2 linked regions of the Homo sapiens genome follow. The protein of the gene in region 1 purifies or fractionates together with the protein of each later gene. This does not show direct contact. Each region holds a gene or a part of one and is shown on either strand. Other genes may lie near its edges.

What was found.
Region 2: the proteins of TULP2 (region 1) and WDR19 purify together in Homo sapiens (co-immunoprecipitation; 3 studies listed by BioGRID and IntAct, with this or other methods). This does not show direct contact.

What each region holds. Positions count from the first base shown.
Region 1 is NC_000019.10:48,888,717-48,895,755, reverse strand, and holds part of TULP2 (tubby-related protein 2), read left to right. Parts: intron 1-252; coding exon 253-390; intron 391-593; coding exon 594-758; intron 759-6,124; coding exon 6,125-6,246; intron 6,247-7,039.
Region 2 is NC_000004.12:39,227,529-39,234,567, forward strand, and holds part of WDR19 (WD repeat-containing protein 19), read left to right. Parts: intron 1-681; coding exon 682-829; intron 830-957; coding exon 958-1,162; intron 1,163-4,268; coding exon 4,269-4,428; intron 4,429-4,633; coding exon 4,634-4,744; coding exon of another isoform or gene 4,745-4,777; exon of another isoform or gene 4,778-4,780; intron 4,781-7,039. UniProt on the Homo sapiens protein: As component of the IFT complex A (IFT-A), a complex required for retrograde ciliary transport and entry into cilia of G protein-coupled receptors (GPCRs), it is involved in cilia function and/or assembly.

The DNA.
Region 1 (7,039 bases):
AGGCATGCGCCACCAAGCCCGGCTAATTTTGTGTTTTTAGTAGAGACGGTGTTTCTCCATGTTGGTCAGGCTGGTCTCGAACTCCCGACCTCAGGTGATCCGCCTGCCTCGGCCTCCCAAAGTGCTGGGATTACAGGCGTGAGCCACGGCGCCTGGCGGGGGTGATATTTGGGAGCCCAGTGACGGGGTGGATTTTGGTTGAGGACCGGAATTTGTAGATCGTTTTCATGGGCTCGCTGAACCTTCTCCCAGGCCTTGGGAACCCTTTCCTCCGGAAGAAAGTGTCAGAGGCACATCTGCCCTCTGGCATCCACAGTGCCCTGGGCACCGTGAGCTGTGGTGGAGACGGCAGGGGCGAGCGCGGCCTCCCGACACCGCGGACAGAAGCAGGTATTTGCGAGTCCACCGACCTCCTAGACCCCAGAACTCCGTCCCCACTAAAACCCAGGAGTCTGGTGCCTCAATCCATCTGTCCAAAATACTCAGGAGCTCAGGACCGCACCCACTCCTTCCTCACACCAAGGAGTTCAGGTCCTGAGCCGCCTCCTCCTGCAGCATCCAGAAATCCAACTCTCCCCTCCTTCCTTCCTCAGTGTTCAGGAATCTCGGTCTCCAGTCCCCTTTCTTATCCTGGCTCCCAGACAATTCCGATGCAGAATTGGAGGAAGTCTCCGTGGAGAATGGTTCCGTCTCTCCCCCACCTTTTAAACAGTCTCCGAGAATCCGACGCAAGGGTTGGCAAGCCCACCAACGACCTGGTAATTTAGGGGACATTGGGGTGAAACCTGGGATCTCCTGGTTCATGCAGCAAATCTTCCCCTTTCTTAGGCAGCAGCTTCACTGAAGTATAATTCACAAACCATACAAGTCACCCATTTAAAGTTCACAATTCCATGGTTTCCAGTACACGGTCGCCCCTCGGTATCTGCAGGTGATGTGTTCCAGGAACCCCACAGATACCAAGATCCGCAGACGCCAAAGTCCCTTATATAAAATGGTGTAAAATTTGCATATAAACTATGAACATCCCCCCATATACTGTAAGTCATCTCTAGATAACTTATAATACCTAATACAGTATAAATGCAATGTAAATATTTGTTGCTGTTGTTGTTGGGAGGGAGTCTCACTCTGTCGCCTAGGCTGGAGTGCAGTGGCGTGATCTTGGCTCACTGCAACCTCCGCCTCCTAGGTTCAAGCTATTCTCCTGCCTCAGCCTCCCAAGTAGCTGGGACTACAGGTGCGCATCACCACGCCCAGCTAATTTTTGTATTTTTAGTAAAGATGGGGTTTCACCATGCTGGCCGGACTGGTCTTAAACTCCTGACCTCATGATCCACCCACCTCAGCCTCCCAAAGTGCTGGGATTACAGGCATAAACCATCATGCCTGGCCCGTAAATAGCTGTTATATGTTATTTAAAAAAATTTTTAAAAATAAAGTGCCTGTAATTCCAGCACTTTGGGAGGCTGAGGCTGGTTGGTCACTTCAGTCCAGGAATTTGAGACGAGCCTGGCCAACGTGACGAAACCATGTCTCTACTAAAAATACAAAAATTAGCCAGGCAAGGGGGTGCAGGCTTGTAATCCCAGATACTCCGGAGGCCAAGGCAAGAGAGTCACTTGAACCCAGGAGGCCGAGGTTGCAGTGAGCCGAGATCATGCCACTGTACTCCAGCCTGGGTGACAGAGCAATACTCTGTCTCAAAGAAAAAAAAAATTGGTTCTGTTATTTATTGTCATCTTGTTGTTTTTCAATTTCTTTCCTGAATATTTTGGGTCAGCAGTGGGGATGTGGAGCCTGTAGGATACGAGAAGCTAACTATATTTATATAATTCTGCAACCGTCACCACAATCAATTTTAGAACATTTGTATCACCCCAGATAGAGATCCTGCATCATGGCTGGGCGCGGTGGCTCACGCCTGTAATCCCAGCACTTTGGGAGGCAAAGGTGGGTGGATCACCTGAGGTCAGGAGTTCAAGACCAGTCTGGCCAACATGGTGAAACCCAGTCTCTACTAAAAATACAAAAATTAGCTGGGCGTGGTGGCATGCACCTGTAATCCTAGCTGCTGGGGAGGCTGAGGTGGAAGAATTGCTTGAACCCAGGAGACAGAGGTTGCAGTAAACTGAGATCAGGCTACTGCATTCCAGCCAGGGTGAAAGAGCGAGACTTTGTCTCAAGGAAAAAAAAAAGAAAGAAAGAAATAGTGCATCAATTAGCAGTCACCCCTTTTCCATTTACCCCAGCCCTTGGCAACCACCAACCTCCACTGTCTTCTTAGATTTGGCTATTCTGTACATTTCACACAAATGGAATCGTATACATATGTGGTCTTTTGTATGTGGCTTCTTTCTTCAATTCCTTTTTTTTTTTTTTTCTTGAGGCAGAGTCTTGCTCTGTCTCCCAGGCTGGAATGCAATGGCGCGATCTCAGCTCACTGCAACCTCTGCCTTCTGGGTTCAAGCGATTCTCCTGCCTCAGCCTCCCGAGTAGCTGGGGTTACAGGCGCGTGCCACCATGCTCGGCTAATTTTTTGTGTTTTTTAGTAGAGACAGGGTTTCACCATGTTGGCACAGCTGGTCTCAAACTCCTGAACTTGTGATCTGCCTGCCTCGGCCTCCCAAAGTGCTGGGATTACAGGCGTGAGCTAATGCACCTGGCCTCTTTTGCTTTGAGATGGTGTGTCACTATGTTGCCTAGGCTGGTCTTGAACTCCTGGGCTCAAGTGATCCTCTCACCTTGGCTTCCCAAAGTGCTGGGATTACGGGTGTGAGCCACCGTGTGTCTTCATTCACCTCATTCACCTAATGATTTTTTTTTTTTTTGAGACGGAGTCTCACTCTGTCACCTAGGCTGTGTGGGGAAAAGAAAGAGAGATCAGATCGTTACTTTGTCTATGTAGAAAAAGGAAGACATAAGAAACTCCATTTTGATCTGTACTAAGAAAAACTGTTCTGCTGGCTGGGCGCGGTGGCTCACGCCTGTAATCCCAGCACTTTGGGAGGCCGAGGCGGGCGGATCACGAGGTCAGGAGATCGAGACCACAGTGAAACCCCACGTTTACTGAAAATACAAAAAATTAGCCGGTTGCGGTGGTGGGCGCCTGTAGTCCCAGCTATTCGGGAGGCTGAGGCAGTAAAACGGCGTGAACCCGGGAGGCAGAGCTTGCAGTGAGCTGAGATCGCGCCACTGCACTCCAGCCTGGGTGACAGAGCAAGACTCCGTCCCCCCCCCAAAAAAAAAAAGAAAAACTGTTCTGCTTTGAGATGCTGTTAATCTGCAACTCTTGTCCCAACCCTGTGCTCACAGAAACATGTGTTATATTGACTCAAGTTTTAAGGGATTTAGGGCTGGGCAGGATGTGCTTTGGTAAAAATGGTTTTGCAGGCAGTATGCTTTGTGAAAGTCATTGCCATTCTCCATTCTCTATTAACCAGAAACATAACACACTGTGGAAGGCTGCAGGGACCCCTGCCCAAGGAAGCCTGGGCATTGTCCAGGATTTCCCCGACTGAGACAGCCTGAGATATGGCCTCGTGGGAAGGGAAAGACCTGACGGTCCCCCAGCCCGACACCCGTAAAGGGTCTGTGCTGAGGAGGATTAGTGAGAGAGAAAGGCCTCCATGCGGTTAAGATAAGAAGGAGGCATCTGTCTCCTGCACGTCTCTGGAAATGGAATGACTCAGTGTAAAACCGACCATACATTCTATTCTGAGATAGGAGAAAACCACCTTATGGCTGGAGGCGAGACATCATGGCGGCAATACTGCTCTTTACTGCACTGGGATGTTTATGTAAAGTTAAACATAAATCCAGCCTATGTGCACATCCAGGCACAGCACCTTTCCTTAAACTTATTTATGACACAGAGTCTTTTGTTCACATGTTTTCCTGCTGACCCTCTCCCCACCATCACCCTATAGTCACACCAAATTCCCCTCACCAAGATAGTAAAGATAGTGATCAATAAATACTGAGGGAACTCAGAGATCAGCGCTGGTGCGGGTCCTCACTTGCGGAGCACTGGTCCCCTGGGCCCACTTTTCTTCCTCTATACTTTGTCTCTGTGTCTTCTTTCTTCTCTCAGCCGCTCGTCTCCACCTTGCGAGAAATACCCACGGGTGTGGAGGGGCAGGCCCCCTTCAGGCTGGAGCGCAGTGGCACGATCTCGGCTCACTGCAACCTCTGCCTGGCTGGGTTTAAGCGATTCTCCTGCCTCAGCCTCCTGAGTAGCTGGAACTGCAGGTGCACGCTGCCACGCCCTGCTAATTTTTGTATTTTTAGTAGAGACCGGTTTCACTATGTTGGCCAGGCTGATTTTGAACTACTGACCTCGTGATCCGCCCACCTCCGCCTCCCAAAGTGCTGGGATTACAGGCATGAGCCACCGCCCCTGGCCCACCTAACAAATTTTTTTTTTTTTTTTGAGACGGAGTCTCGCCCTGTTGCCCAGGCTGGAGTGCAGTGGCACAATCTCGGCTCACTGCAAGCTCCGCCTCCCGGGTTCACACCATTCTCCTGCCTCAGCCTCCCAAGTAGCTGGGACTACAGGCGCCGGCCACCACACCCGGCTAATTTTTTTTTTTTTTTTGTATTTTTAGTAGAGACGGGGTTTCACCATGTTTGCCAGGATGGTCTCGATCTCCTGACCTCGTGATCCGCCCGCCTCGGCCTCCCAAAGTGCTGGGATTACAGGCGTGAGCCACCGTGCCCGGCCATAAAATTTTAAGGTTCATCCGTGTGGTAGTATTATCAGTACTTCATTCCTTTTTATTCCCTTATAATATTCCATTGTGGTGACGTTTCCTTTTATTTTCATGAGATGGCCAATGATTTCAATGACAGAATTATTATCACCCCAAACTCCATCCCCCCATCTTCAGTCTCTGTGATGCTTTGTCTGAGATAAGGAAAAGGAAAGACCCTAACCCCTCCCTGTCCTTAGATCCAGGGTAATCAGAAACTCTGGCCCTTGTAGACTTCCGTGCACCTGGAGGAGGAGGAGGTTGTTGCAAGTGAGGGCGCTGAGTCATGAGTAGGGACTGAGAACCCAGGAGTTCTGGCCATCTCTGGCTAGCACTGATGATGGTGTCCCACACTCCTGGGATCCAGCTGTCCTGAGCTTAGTCCAGGCTTCTTTCATCCTTTAGGTGAAGGGGTGGGTTGCCCCTCCACACCTGTGGGTTCGTTAGGTGGAACGAGAGACTTGGAAAAGAAAAAGACACAGAGACAAAGTATAGAGAAAGAAATAAGGGGACCCAGGGAACCAGCGTTCAGCATATGGAGGATCCCGCCAGCCTCTGAGTTCCCTTAGTATTTATTGATCATTTGTGGGTGTTTCTCCGAGAGGGGGATGTGTCAGGGTCACAAGACAATAGTGGGGAGAGGGTCAGCAGACAAACACGTGAACAAAGGTCTTTGCATCATAGACAAGGTAAAGAATCAAGTGCTGTGCTTTTAGATATGCATACACATAAACATCTCAATGCTTTACAAAGCAGTATTGCTGCCCGCATGTCCCACCTCCAGCCCGAAGGCGGTTTTTCCCTATCTCAGTAGATGGAACGTACAATCGGGTTTTATACCGAGACATTCCATTGCCCAGGGACGGGCAGGAGACAGATGCCTTCCTCTTGTCTCAACTGCAAGAGGCATGCCTTCCTCTTATACTAATCCTCCTCAGCACAGACCCTTTACGGGTGTCGGGCTGGGGGACGGTCAGGTCTTTCCCTTCCCACGAGGCCATATTTCAGACTATCACATGGGGAGAAATCTTGGACAATACCTGGCTTTCCTAGGCAGAGGTCCCTGCGCCCTTCCGCGGTGTTTGTGTCCCTGGGTACTTGAGATTAGGGAGTGGTGATGACTCTTTAGGAGCATGCTGCCTTCAAGCATCTGTTTAACAAAGCACATCTTGCACCGCCCTTAATCCATTTAACCCTGAGTGGACACAGCACATGTTTCAGAGAGCACGGGGTTGGGGGTAAGGTTATAGATTAACAGCATCCCAAGGCAGAAGAATTTGTCTTAGTACAGAACAAAATGGAGTCTCCTATGTCTACTTCTTTCTACACAGACACAGTAACAATCTGATCTCTCTTGCTTTTCCCCACATTAGGGACCCGTGCAGAGGGTGAGAGTGACTCCCAGGATATGGGAGATGCACACAAGTCACCCAATATGGGACCAAACCCTGGAATGGATGGTGACTGTGTATATGAAAACTTGGCCTTCCAAAAGGTAGGAAAATGCACAATCACTCAGGATATTGGAAGAAGAGGGCTAGCCTCGGACCTCTGGTGAGGGTGGGGCTAAAATTCTGCCACCCAATCAGAAGCTCTTTTTCCTGGTGGTGATTAAGCTGGCAGAGACTTGTGTGTGTGCGTGCGTGCGTGCGTGCGTGCATGTGTGTGTGTGTACCATTCATCAAATCAGAGGATTTGACTTGACATGGACATGGCCATTAAAATACAGCTTATGGTATGGTGGCTCACGCCTGTAATCCCAGCACTTTGGGAGGCTGAGGTGGGCAGATCACTTGAGGTCAGGAGTTCGTGACCAGCCTGGCCAACGTGGTGAAACCCTGTCTCTAGTAAAATACAAAAATTAGCCAGGTGTGGTGGCGCACGCCAGTAATCCCAACTACTCAGGAGGCTGAGGCAGGAGAATCACTTGAACCTGGGAGGCGGAGGTTGCAGTGAGCTGAGATTGCACTCCAGCCCGGGAGACAGAGTGAGACTGTCCAAAAAAAAAAAAAAATAGGTGCAGCCATGGAAAGACAGCGAGCTTCAGAAAGGGCAGAACACTGATCGAAAAGGGCCAGTTGCAGGCCAGGAACGGTGACTCACGCCTGTAATCCCAGCACTTTGGAAGGCCGAGGCAGGCAGATCACCTGAGGTCAGGAGTTCCAGACCAGCTTGGCCAACTTGGTGAAGCCCCGTCTCTACTAAAAATACAAAAATTAGCTGGGCGTGGTGGCGAAAGCCTGTAATCCTAGCTACTTGGGAGGCTGAGGCAGGAGAATTGCTTGAAC
Region 2 (7,039 bases), on another chromosome or scaffold:
TATGACAACTATTTACATAGCATTTATATTGTATTAGGTATTATAAGTAATCTAGAGATGATTTAAAGTATAAGGGAGGGTGTACATAGTTTATACACATATTACACCATTTTATTCAGGGATTTGGCCATCTGTGGGTTTTGCTATCCGTGGGAGATCCTGGAACCAATCCCTCATGGATGTTGAGGGATGATTGTATATTTATATTTGTTGACATGCATTTTAGAGAAGCTTTTGAAATAAAGTATCCCTAGTGTAATTTACTTCAATCATGTGAGTTAATTTGTTTCTTAATACCCACTATTATCAAATACTCAGTATTATTGAAAAATTTCTAAACACAAGTACAAGTGTGTTCGTAGTTTAAATTTCTGTCATCCTGAGCAGCTTTAATTTTTTTTCCTTAACCTGAAGCTTTGTGTCTAGACTTGTGGGTTCTCCTACAAATTTGCCAGATTTTAGATCAAACCTTGGCTTTTCCAAATAACTATAGTTTTTTCAAGCCAGACCTAGGATAGGAATGGAAAAAGAAACTTTCTTTCCTGTTGTTGTTGGAGTGATGTTAGGTTGAATATGACTCAGTAAGCTAAGCCAGCTAAGGCTGCAAACAGGCTTCTACCACGGCAAATGATAATGATTCAAGTACAGACTTGGGGCAAATCTGTAAATTTTATTTTGTAGGTCAATGACGCTACCTATGAGATTCCAGATTTTTCACCAACCATTAAAGGTGTTCTTTGGGAAAACTGGCCAATGGATAAAGGTGTATTTATTGCTTATGATGATGATAAGGTGTACACTTATGTCTTTCACAAGGACACTATACAAGGTACTAAACCCCTTTTGTGTATATTCGCTGACAGATGAATTTCCCATTGCAGTAAAATTAAAACATTCTTTCTGATGTTTGTGCTGAGTATTAGCTTTCAGCATTGCGATGTCTGTTTTATAATGTAGGAGCCAAGGTTATTTTGGCTGGTAGCACCAAAGTTCCTTTTGCTCATAAACCTTTGCTGCTATATAATGGAGAGCTGACCTGCCAAACACAGAGTGGAAAAGTAAACAACATCTACCTTAGCACCCATGGCTTTCTCAGCAACTTAAAAGATACGGGGCCTGACGAACTGAGACCAATGCTGGCACAGAATTTAATGCTAAAGAGGTAGGCTTTCACACACTTCTTTTGGAACTTCTCATTTGCTTTTGTGATTTTAAAGGTCAAATCCTATAATTATTCTATCTTATTTTATTGCTTTATTCTTTATCCTTGCAAGAATTTTTTTTTTTTTTGTAAATGTAGAAGTACAAGTGCAGTTGTGCTACATGGATATAGTGCATATGGTGAAGTCTGGGCTTTTAATGTACCCATCACCAGAATAGTGAACACTGTACCCAGTGGGTAGTATTTTATCCCTCAACCCTGTCTCACCATCCCGCCTTTTGGAGTTGCCAGTATCTATTATTCCACCTGTATGTCCATGTGTACCCATTGTTTACCTCCCACTTCTAAGTGAGAACATGCAGTTTTTGACTTTGGGGCATTTCACTTAGGATAATGACCTCGAATTCCATCCATATTGCTGCAAAAGACATGATTTCATTTTTTTAATGGCTGAGTAGTATTCCATAGTGTGTATATCTATATATACACACCACTTTTTAAAATCCAGTCATCTGTTGATGGACACTTAAGTTGATTCCATGACTTTGCTATTGTGAATAGTGCTGCAGTAAACATATGAGTGCAGGTGTCTTTTTGATAAAATGTCAAATCCTATTCAATAGATGGAGATAACAGCACTTACCTTGTTCATTTCACAGGGATATTGTGAGGCTCAGATAAGATAGTCAGCTGTTTTTATTATGAGTACTTTATTACAAGAAAAGCCCTTAAGAACAAAACGGTTTCTAAGCTTCCAGAGAGCCTAGTTATTGGGAAATCCTAATAAAATAAACCTAATTATTTCAACAATATCTTGACTTCATCATAGTGAGGTTTGATTTTGCTTTGCTTATAATTTCCTTTTACTGTTTTTTTCTCTTATCTCCTAGAGCCACCGTGAATTCCTTTGACGTTCTAATTCTTCCGAGCCTCTCTTAAATGCTGCTGTTTATTGGGGTCTCATGAGTTTCCTTCTCTTCTTACTCTAATTATTCTTCCTGAGTGAATCTCCTCTGCTTAACATGGCTCAACATACCACCCATATGAAGCTGACTCTAAAATCTGTGTCTTTATCTTAAACCTGTACTTACAACTACCTTCCAGTCATGTGTCCTTGGAAGTCCATGAGCTCTTCAAACTTGCCCTTTCTAAAACTGAACTCATCAATTTCCACAGGCCCCTATTTTCCCTCACTGTAATCACACATGCACATGCCTTAACACACATATACACCAGCTCCTTTCCTCCTCCCGTGTTCCCTCATCTTTACCCAGGCCCTCACCTGGAATAATGTGTAATGTAACTAACCACTTCCTAACTGCTCTGTCTGCCAATAGCCTTGTAACGATCTCATCTGTTCTCCACACACTTTTGAAGATGTGATTTGATCCTCTTATTTCCCTGCTCAGGATCCTTCAGTGACTTTCTATTGCCTTTACAAACAAATCCATTCCTGGGGGACCTCTATGACCTACTAGGCACTTCATGATTTAACACCAGCTCAACTGTCTCCACTCAAGTCCCTCTCTGTTCCACTGGCTGCTGAAATTGCATATATTTCATGATTCTTCCTGGAATGCCCTTTCCCTGCTCTGAATGTAGTAACCCCTCTTTCTTTACCCATCAGCGATAAGTGGAGCCATCTCCTGCTCCAGGAAGCCTTCCCCGACTTCCCCACCACCACAGGCAGTCCTGCTTGGGGTCTTTCTGATGTGTTGCCTCAGAGCCAGGATGCAGTATACACAGTGGTGAAGAGCATGACACCACTTACCTCTGTGTGCCTTGGGCTAGTCTTTTGACGTCTCTAAGCCTCATTTTCCTAATCTATAAAGGAGACATAATAATAATACTTAGTGGGTAGGGTTATTAGGGTAAGAGAATTTATGCAAAAGACTTAGCACAAAGAGTTACCTATTGTAAGTACTCAGTTACCTCTGTCAAACTATGCTATAGTCATTTGTTTCCTTATCTGTCTCTTCCACCTTCCCCAATTGTGACTGCCTTAAGGACAGCAACTGTGGTTGATTTTTGTATCATGTTTCCAAGCATGTAACGAGTTCAGTAAATGTGTGTTGGATGAAAAAATGGATAGGTGAATAGATAAATGGATGAATGAATAGATAGATGGATGTAATATATTCACTCATGTAGAGGTTCCACAAAAAGTTTAATTGGCATTTATGTTCATGTTTTAAACCAGAGGTCGGAAAACCTTTTGTGTTAAGGTCCAAATGGCAAATATTTCAAGCTTTACGGGCCATAGGGTCTCTATCGCAGCTACTCAGTCTGGCTGTTGTAGCAGGAAAGTGGCCACAGACAATCCATTAAAGAGTGGGCTGGGCCGGGGACGGTGGCTCACACCTGTAATCCCAGCACTCTGGGAGGCCGAGGCGGGCGGATCATGAGGTCAGCAGATCAAGACCATCCTGGCTAACACGATGAAACCCTGTCTCTACTAAAAATACAAAAAATTAGCCGGGTGTCATGGCATGCGCCTGTAGTCCCAGCTATTCGGGAGGCTGAAGCAGGAGAATAACTTGAACCCAGGAGGCCGAGGTTGCAGTTAGGTGAGATCACGCCATTGCACTCCACCCACCCTGGGCAACAGAGTGAGACTCCGTCTTCAAAAAAAAAAAAAAAAAAAAAAGAGTGGGCTGATCAGTGACTTTGTTCCACTCAAGCTGTATTTTCAAAACAGCACCTGACTAGATTTGGCCCATAAGCCATAGTTTGCTGACCCCTGTTTTAAACTTCTAAATTTATAGGAATAGAATACTAATTTTATTAGACTTATATGAGAACAAAAATAATATTCATCTATGTGTGAAATAAAAAGAAATAAATGAATAGGATTAGCTTAGTTAATTGAGTAGGCTTATTACAGAGTAGATTCAGATTAATAAAAGAAATTTAGGGAAAAACATTTATCTGTAAAAAAAGGAAGAAAGCTTAAGTGTTTTTTCATTACTTGTAAATGACAATTACAGGTTAAGAAATGTTTTAGACAGTTTATCTGGGGCACGCTATTAGATGACATGTAGTCTGAAAATTGCCTAACATGTGGCAAGTGGAACATTCTGATTAAGCTTATGTTCTTACATCCCAGGTTTTCTGATGCTTGGGAAATGTGCAGGATTCTGAATGATGAGGCTGCCTGGAATGAGTTGGCCAGAGCTTGTCTACATCACATGGAAGTGGAGTTTGCAATCCGTGTTTATCGGAGAATTGGAAATGTTGGCATAGTGATGTCCTTGGAACAAATAAAGGTAAACAGCATGTTATAGAATTATCAAGTTAAAATTTAAATGCTATTTTAAGTTAAATGCAGTCTAAATTTTTTGCATTTAATCTTACCTCTTAAACAAGTGAATCGATAGAACGTTACCACTTCCTACTGATCAAAGTCCTTAAAAAAAAAAAAAAGTTAAACTCTTGCATTTTTTTTCTCATCAGAATTGCTTTTATTTGTAGGGAATAGAGGACTACAATCTTTTGGCAGGACACCTTGCCATGTTTACCAACGATTATAACCTGGCTCAGGACTTGTACCTTGCATCCAGCTGTCCTATTGCTGCCCTGGAGGTATGGCAGCAAGTAAGAATGGAAATTGTGTAAGAGGTATCCAGTGGGGAAATGGGGGAAAAAAAAATGGGGCCGGGTGCAGCCGCTCACGCCTCTAATTCCAGCACTTTGGGAGGCCAAGGTGGATGGATCGCCTGAGGTCAGAAGTCCTAGACCAGCCTGACCAATATGATGAAACCTCATCTCAGCTAAAAATACAAAAATTAGCCGGACGTGGTGGCATGTGCCTGTAATCCCAGCTACTCAGGAGGCTGAGACAGGAGAACTGCTTGAACCTGGGAGGTGGAGGTTGCAGTGAGCCTGTAATCCCAGCTACTGTAATCTCCTGCCCCAGCAGGAGAATTGCTTGAACCTAGGAGGCAGAGATTGCAGTGAGCCAAGATTGTACCACTGCACTCCAGCCTGGGTGACAGAGCGAGACTCCGTCTCAAAAAAAAAAAAAAGGAAAGAACATAAGAATATCAAAGGAGGATCACCCCTTCTATATAATTAAAATTTCTCAGCACAGACACTATATGCCTTCCCCCTCCTAAAATTCAAACATGTCAGTTTAAGAACCCCTGAGTACTCATTAATTATAATGTTAATCATTAAAATTATAATTCAAAAATGTTTATTCTGCATTTTGTGGAGGTATAAAATGCATGGTATTATAACATTACTAATTGAAATCTAAATGTGTCCAAAGAGAACAGATTGTGTAAATTACAAAAACATATACAAGGAAAAATATCACCATATATTGAGTGCTCATGTGGGCCAGGCATTTTTCTAAGCACTTATCATGTATTAATTCATTTAACCCTCCCAACAATCCTATGAGATAGGATTGGTTTTTTCTCTATTTTCCAGATGGGAAAACCGAGGCACATTTATCCTTATTGTGTGAAATTCTGTTGTGTATTAAAAGGTGAGCTAAGGACTAGTGTACCATCACTGGTTTCCCAGAGGTGAGCATTGCAGGAGAGGGCCTAGAGCAGGATGAAGGGCCTGGTTAGTTCAAGGGCAGGGAAGAAGGGAAACCTGGCAATATAGACTAGCAATGAGGGGCATAGACTTCACAGTCAGACATGTCTGGGTTCAAATTCCAGCTCTGTGTAAGCTTGGACATGTTATTTAACCTTTCTGAACCCTAGATCCTATTTCTTTAAAGTAGGAAGAATAATATCTAACCCACGGGATATTTGTAAGGATTTAAAAATGAGAATGAGGTCTTTTAGCACAGTGCCTGATCAATAGTAAAGACACATAATTAGCTATTGTAATCATTAATATTATTTCACCTAAAACTGGCATTTCTACAACTATGTAAAAGAGCTTGTTTTGGGAGCGTTTGTTATTAATTTTACAACTTTCCTTTTACAAATCATTCTATAGCAAATTTTCATTTTTAAATTTTAAGTGAACTAAATTAACTTTGTTATAAGAAAAATTTAGGTAATTTTACAGTATTATTTAAGATAATTGGGACACCCTGAGAAGTTTTCAAAACTTGGATTAGTACTCACTGAAATAGGAATATGGCTGCGATGACTGAGGGGAAATATATCATCTCAACTCTTTTGCATTTAACTGTGGGCACTTGTCATGTGCTGCTAGACTTGGAAAGGATTTGAGGTAATGGATTGATAATGGAGAGGGGTGATTACTCTTTAACCTCACTTTGAAAGCTGATGAGTTAACCAGGTGAAGAGTTCAGAGGCAGAGCCCTACTGCCCAGCTCTGTCATGTACCAGCTGTGTAACCTTATATACAGAGGAGCCTCTGTTTGCCTCAGTTTCTGGATCTCTAAAATGGATACAAGAAAGTATTAATAAATTGCAAAAGGGTAGTTGTGAAAGATAAATAAGCTAATCCCCTAGAACAGTATCTGGCAGATAATAACACTTGAAAAATGTTAGCTATTATTGTTTAGGAAGTATGAATAAAGTGAGGAATGAACTTTAAAAGATTAATGATGAGTTTATATTTAGAATTATGTACCAGGCAGAGAAAAAAGACCACAGGAACATATATTTACATTTTAGTTACATTTGCTATTACTCTTGTGATAGAGCTTCAGATTTTCTAAGAAAAACACACCAATTCCTATAGCAAAGTGTTCTCAACTTTTTAGAATCACTACCTTCTAAAAATAAAAATTAACTTTAATTTAATTGATTACATTAATTTAATTTGATTACTCCTTGCTGAGAAAAATTAAATACTAAGGACTAAGATTTTGTTAGATACGACTGAGTTTTGGAGGGCCACAAACCATTATAATAGCTAAGATTTTTTTGCCCCTCCAAGAAT